2 linked regions of the Homo sapiens genome follow. The protein of the gene in region 1 purifies or fractionates together with the protein of each later gene. This does not show direct contact. Each region holds a gene or a part of one and is shown on either strand. Other genes may lie near its edges.

Region 1 (3,833 bases):
TACATTTTGTATTTTATTGTATGTAAATTGTACCTCAATAAAGTTGATTTGTAAAGAAACTAAAAACAAAACAAATTGGTAGAAAATAAAGAACCAAGGAATGAAAGGGTAATTGAGCATTAAACTTAGCACTGAATTTCCTAGCAGCCATGAGAAAAGAAAAAGGACAAATATTTGTTTTTCAAAGGAGATACTGCGTTTTTGGTTTTTTTTTTCACCTAGTATTGAACTCAGTTAATTCATTGAGTAAATGTTTGCATCAGGGTCACTTCAACTGTCATTTCTAATCACTAGATCACAACAGTTTCCTTGGTCCCCACTAGGAATTAAAATGTAGGGAATATTAAGTTGTTTGGAAGGTAAGACAGTTAAACATCATAGTCCTTTTTGCAAAACTCCATGACATTTAATTTCTACTTTTGAACTAATCATAATGTTGCCAGCAAAATGGCCACATTATACGTATGCATAATATTTTTTTTCTTCTTAAAAAAAAACAGGATACATGTGCAGAATGTGCAGGTTCATTACATCAGTATACATGTGCCATGTGGTTTGCTGCATGACCTGTCCTCTAAGTTCCTTTCCCTCACACCCCAACGTCCAAAAGGCCCTGGTGTGTGGTGTTCCCCTCTCTGTGTTCTCAATGTTCAACTCCCACTTATGAGTGAGAACATGAGGCGTTTGGTTTTCTGTTACTGTGTAGTTTGCTGAGGATGATGGCTTCCAGCTTCATCCATGTCCCTGCAAAGGACAGATCTCATTCCTTTTTATGACTGTATAGTATTCCACATGGAATACTATACTTCTTTATCCAGTCTATCACTGACGGGCATTTGGGTTAGTTCCATGTCTTTGCTACTGTAAACAGTGCTGCAATAAACATACGTGTGCATGTGTCTTTAGAGCAGGATGATTTATATGCCTTTGGGTATATACCCAGTAATGGGATTGCTGGGTCAAATGGTATTTCTGGTTCTAGATCCTTGAGGAATCGCCATACTGTCTACCTCAATGGTTGAACTAATTTACATTCCCACCAACAGTATAAAAGTGTTCCTATTTCTCCACAGCCTTGCCAGCATCTATTGTTTCCTGACTTTTTAATAATCACCATTCTCACTGGCGTGAGGTGGTATCTCATTGTGGTTTTGATTTGCATTTCTCTGGTGATCAGTGATGTTGAGCTTTTTTTCATGTTTCTTGGCCGCATAAACGACTTCTTTTTAGAAGTGTCTGTTCATATCCTTTGCCCACTTTTTGATGGGTTTTCTTCTTGTAAATATGTTTAAGTTCCTTGTAAATTCTGGATATTAGACCTTTGTCAGATCGGTAGATTGCAAAAATTTTCTCCCATTCTGTAGGTTGCCTGTTCACTCTGATGATAGTTTCTTTTGCTGTGCAGAAGCTCTCTAAGTTTAATTAGATCCCATTTGTCAATTTTAGCTTTTGTTACAATAGCTCTTGGCATTTTTGTCATGAAGTCTTTGCCCATGCCTATGTCCTAGGAATGGTCTTGCCTGGGTTTTCTTCTAGGGTTTTTATGGTTTGGAATTTTACATTTAAGTCTTTAATCCATCTTGAGTTAATTCTTGTATAAGGTATAAGGAAGGGGTCCAGTTTCAGCTTTCTGCATATGGCTAGCCAGTTTTCCCAGCACCATTTACTGAATAGGAGATCCTTTCCCCATTGCTTGTCTTTGTCAGGTTTGTCGAAGATCAGATGGTTGTAGATGTGTAGGTTTCTGAGGACTCTGTTCTGCTTCATTGGTCTATATGGCTGTTTTGGTTACTGTAACCTTGTAGTATGTTTAAAGTCAGGTAACGTGATGCCTCTAGCTTTGTTCTTTTTGCTTAGGATTGTCTTGGCTATACGGGGTTCTTCTTTGATTCCATATGAAATTTAAAATAGTTTTTTCTAATTCTGTGAAGAATGTCAACAGTAGTTTGATGGCAATAGCATTGAATCTATAAATTACTTTGGGTAGTATGGCCATTTTCACCATACTGATTCTTCCTATTCATGAGGATTGAATGTTTTTCCATTTGTTTGTGTCCTCTCATATTTCCTTGATCAGTGGTTTGTAGTTCTCCTTGAAGAGGTTCTTCACATCCCTTGTTAGCTGTATTCCTAGGTATTTTATTCTCTTTGTAGTGACTGTGAATGGGAGTTCATTCATGATTTGACTCTCTGCTTGTCTACTGTTGGTGTAAAGGAATACTTGTGATTTTTGCACAATGATTTTGTATCTTGAGACTTTGCTGAAGTTGCTTATCAGTTCAAGAAGTTTTTAGGTTCAGATGATGAGGTTTTCTAAATATAAAATCATGTCATCTGCAAACAGAGACAACTTGACTTCCTCTCTTCCTATCTGAATACCTCTTGCCTGATTGCCCCAGCCAGAATTTCCAATACTACGTTGAATAGGAGTGGTGAGAGAGGGCATCCTTGTCTTGTATCAGTTTTCAAAGGGAATGCTTTCAGCTTTTGCCCATTCAATGTAATATTGGCTGTGGGTTTGTCATAAATAGCTCTTATTATTTTGAGATATGTTCCATCAATACCTAGCTTATTGACAGTTTTTAAAATGAAGGGGTGTTGAATTTTATCTAAGGCCTTTTCTGCATCTACTGAGATAATCAAAGTGTTCCTATTTTTCCACAGCCTCCCAGCATTTATTCTTCCTGACTTTTTAATAATCATCATTCTGACTGGTGTGAGATGGTATCTCGTGGTTTTATTTGCATTTCTCTGATGATCAGTGATGTTGAGCTTCTTTTCATACGTTTGTTGGCCACGTAAATGTCTTCTTTTGAGAAGTGTCTGTTGATATGTTTTGCCCACTTTTTTGTTTTTTTCTTGTAAATATGTTTTTGGTTTTTGTCTTTGGATCTGTTTATGTGATGGATTATGTTTATTGATTTACGTATGTTGAACCAGCCTTGCATCCCAGGGATGAAGCTGACTTGATGACATGGATTAAGTTTTTTGATGTGCTGCTGGGTTCGGTTTGGCAGTATTTTATTGAGGATTTTTGCATCAATGTTCATCAGGGACATTGGCCTGAAGTTTTCTTTTTTGTGTGTGTTTCTCTTCCTGGTTTTGGTATCAAGATGATGCTGGCTTCATAAAATGAGTTAGGGAGGAGTCCCTCCTTTTCAATTGTTTGGAATAGTTTCAGAAGGAATGGTACCAGCTTCTCTTTGTACTTCCGGTAGAATTTGGCTGTGAATCATCTGGTTGTGGGCTTTTTCTAGTTGATAGGCTATTAATTACTGCCTCAATTTCAGAACTTGTTATTGGTCTATTCAGGGATTCAACTTTTTCCTGGGTTAGTCTTGGGAGGGTGTATGTGTCCAGGAATTTGTCCATTTCTTCTAGATTTTCTAGTTTATTTGCTCAGAGGTGTTCATAGTATTCTCTGATGGTAGTTTGTATTTCTGTGGGGTCAGTGGTGATATCCCTTTTATTATTTTTTATTGCATCTATTTGATTCTTCTCTCTCTTCTTATTAGTCTAGCTAGCAGTTTATCTATTTTGTTAATGTTTTCAAAACACCAGCTCCTGGATTTGTTGATTTTTTTGGAGGGTTTTTCATGTCTCTATCTCCTTCAATTCTTCTCTTAGTTATTTCTTGTCTTCTGCTAGCTTTTGGATTAGTCTGCTCTTGCCGCTCTAGCTCTTTTAATTGTGATGTTAGGGTGTCGTTTTGAGATCTTTCTAGCTTTCTAATGTGGGCATTTAGTGCTAGAAATTTCCCTCTTAATACTGCTTTAGCTATATCTCAGAAATTCTGGAACATTGTCTCTTTGTTCTCATTGGTTTCAAAGAAC
Region 2 (3,833 bases), on another chromosome or scaffold:
TAAAATGTTGCAATAGTAACTGCAACAACCATGATAACTAACACTTAACTCTTCCAATGTGTCAGATATTGCTCTTATACCCAGCATGTATTTCTCCTAACAATTTTTTGAGGTAGGTGTAATTAAGATCCCTATATATCACATGAGGAAATTCTACTTGACAGAGAGGTTAAGTAATTTAGCCAAGATTATAAAGCTAGTGAGTGGCACAGTTTGGGTGTGAATACAGGTTTCCAGTTCTGGAGTCTTAACCATTAAGCTCCATAGATAATTACTGAAATCAAAAAAAGATATCCAAAGGGCACACCACAGTTAGCCTATTAGGGTCCTCTTCCCACCATCAGGCAGGACATTACATCATATTTTCTCAATTTAAGCAGATTTCTAGTAAGATACCCCCACACTTCTATTAATTCTTTGGTTGCCTCTTTGCCCTCCATATCCTCCTAATCTGTATTTATCCACCCTCCCCAGGAGAGAACTCTTCTAAGCTTGTAGAAGTCATGATATCTGTGATTTAAGCTCATTTCAAAGTGAAAATAAAATAAATACTTGAAAGACAGTTATGAATCCTTTCTTCTCTTCTTAGAGCAGAACGAACCCAGTTCATTTGTCTTTTGTTTTCTAACATCTTAATACATTACATTCCTTTTATAGAATATGAATTCCATGGGGAGCAAAGGATATATATCCCACACCTAGCCCAGTTCCTGGCACATGACAGACCCTCAAATATCAGATGGATGAACTATATATCCTTTTATTGTAACCCCATCAAATTCTCCACCTCAGTATTGACTTGTACAAAGCAGAGTTATTCACTCAACAGATATTTAAGGAGTGAGTGATTCTGTATCCAAATTTCTGCCTAATTTATATTCTGTCCAAAATAAGAAATGTCATGCTCCCTAATGTCTCTTCTATAAGAGAAATTGAAAATATTCAAAGTAAATTCAATTAGCATAATTGTGACTACTGCCTAAATAAATTACTAAATTTAATACAAGAAATTCAGTATTTTATTTTATGAACAAACAATTACACATAACCCATTTTTTGTTCCTAAACTAATAAAGTTATTTTAGTCACTTAATAAATGTCATTAAAATGTAAATATTTGTCTTTATTTCAATTTTTTTCTCCAAACTCCTGGAATTTATTTTGGAGAAATTTGAAAGTAAGAAATGTTAGAATTTGGGGAAATGTAATGCCTCAACTCAGGGTTAAGCTAATATATATCTCAAAGTAGACTTTTTAGACTCTATTCTTCAGTTTTTTGATGACTATCATACAGGATCAACTCTAAAAGTCAGCTAAGGTATATTTATTCACCATTTTTATGCCACTTACCACTCATTTTTGATCTGCCAGGCCAGTCAATACCACGGGAAGATAAGCCTGACAGGATTATGTCCTTTAACAAACCTACTAGTTTAAACAAACCTGACACCGCCATTATCTTCAATGTTTGTATAAATGGTTGTGTGATGCTTTTAAAATTACTTTCCCAGGTGTCTTAATTGAAGCTTACTGTGATTTCAGAAGGCATTTTCTTTGCTCTTTTAGATAAAAAGACCATTAGACCATTTCTCTTTTCAAGAAGCTAGATTGGTTTTACATGTGTTTTTCTGCAATGAATTTAATGATATGCACTGAGTGCTGCATCCAGTAATTTCCATAAAAAGCACATTTCCTAATCTCTTTGTCTGCCCTTCTTCTATGTTCCAACCTTTCCCACATCACCAGGATGAGTAATCAACCTATAACTGCAGTGATATTTAGGAGCCAGTCCCTCAGGAAACAGGGCCTTACCAGAGGATTTCATATTCTCTACTTTTCCCAAGACCAGCAGATAGAGGAGGCTTGCTCACAAAACACTTGGTTCTCAGAGCCCTCCAGAACACCACCCGTGTCAGAAAGGAAAAGGCCTGCTTCACACCTGCTGTCAGGGGTCACATTGCTGGGTCATACCACCCAGAGCAGCCCTCACAGCTGAGAAGCAGCAGCTGAATGTGAGATGCCTCCTTCCTCCCTGGCACGTGGCCACAGGGCGTGTGCAGAGCCCTACCTCACAAAGAGAAAGCAAAGCAAGCTTGGAAGACAAGATATCTATCATCCCTGTCTTGCTGGGCCTATTCTGAGAAGGGTGGAGGAAAGGTGGGAGGAAGCAGGGAAAGAAGGAAGGACAGAGTAGGTCAGAAGAGGTGCAAGAAAACAGAAGTGGGAAGACCTGTTATGTGAGTGGCTATCACAATAGTCCAGGAAACAGGTAATTAGCCCTTAAACTGGTTTAGCTGTAGAGACATGCAAAGGAAGGGAAAGTATGCAAGAAGTATTTTGGAGGTCAACTGCAGGACCTAAAGACTGACTGGATGTAGGGTGGGCAAGGAGATGAACCTTATTACAGTTTACAGAACACTTTCAAAGGAGACAATAGGATGATGAAGTGTGGAATGGTATCTGAGCATGTGCAAACACTGGAGAGATGAACAAGCGCCAGCTGCCTGCCTCTCATTGACAAAGCTTGGTTCAACAGTGGAACGGATCCAAGGTGGAGAAGTTCAGGATGACCTTTGATGGTCCTCTTCAGGAGGACCTTTCCGTGCTAATTCCACCCAAGCATTTCTATTTGCTTCTCTCAAGGACCAGATCCCTGGAAGAATCCCATGAGTGGAACATCCCTAGAAACAGCAGACATCTCCTGATAATGGCCTGGTAAGCTTTGCCGCCAGCATAACCCAGTTGCCATGCTGACCCAGCTTTCAAATGGAATGAGCCTCCAAAACAGAAGTGGTAAAATGGGGTTCAAGTGAATAGAGCATTCCCAATCAGTTCATACCAGCCCTCCAAGGGAGATGTGGTACATTTCATTCAAAAATGTGTCCCTGTCTTATCATCTGAAGCCCAGTGGTGTTGCCATCAGACAACAGAGCCAATCTCACTATAGAACAACACTCCTCAACAGAAATTGCTGCAGTGATGGAAATGGCTATTAAGCACTTGAACTGTGGCTAGTGTGACTGAGGTCCTGAATTTTTCATTTCGTTTAATTTTCATTAATTTAAATAGCCACAAGTGACTAGTGGTTACTACAGACAGCATAGGTCTAGAACTTTAAAAACATAGATGTGGGCCAGATCACATCTGTCCTAAACTGCTAGAAAAAAAAAAAGTCACAGAGTTATATTTCTCTACTCTGAGGAAGCTGAATCTCTAATATTTCAACATCTGCTCAAGCAATTTTCCAGCACTGGGCTCTCCTTTGGTCCTTACTACAACTATTTATCAATCAGCCTCCAAAACATTTCCATTTGGAAGGCACTCAGACCCTAGCTTAACCATCCATCCACTGCAGGAACCTTCTTCATGATGTCCCTGAGTATGTCCATGGTCCCTGCATATGTCTATGCAATCGTTACCAAGTCCCCCAAGTAGCAATGAAACTTACCGTCAGTCAGAGACACTGCTCCAAAAAGATACTGATGATGCAGAAAATAATTTTAAGAAAACTATTTTACACAAAATTTCACTTCTTATGAAGCTCTTTCACATTCACTATGTCATTTAAGCCACACAATAACCTTAGAAGATAAATATTTAGTAAATACACTTACTTTATAGAGCCTAAGTGATTTACCAAGGCAATATGGTAGCCATATACCCAGTTGTGGCATGTCTTCCAAGGAGTGAGAGACAAATGATAGAAGAAAAAGTCATGGTCAGGAAAGTGAGGCACAAAAGAAGAGTGATTAGAGGAAGAAATATAGCTATATCAACTAATAACCTTAGAAATAGATCTGTTTCAAACTCAATTACTTATAGATGAACAAACT

Evidence for each region.
Region 2: the proteins of WDR70 (region 1) and AMOTL1 purify together in Homo sapiens (affinity purification with mass spectrometry, with the first as the bait; one large-scale study listed by BioGRID). This does not show direct contact.

The regions. Positions count from the first base shown.
Region 1 is NC_000005.10:37,746,213-37,750,045, reverse strand, and holds part of WDR70 (WD repeat-containing protein 70), read right to left. Parts: intron 1-3,833.
Region 2 is NC_000011.10:94,774,826-94,778,658, reverse strand, and holds part of AMOTL1 (angiomotin-like protein 1), read right to left. Parts: intron 1-3,833. UniProt on the Homo sapiens protein: Inhibits the Wnt/beta-catenin signaling pathway, probably by recruiting CTNNB1 to recycling endosomes and hence preventing its translocation to the nucleus.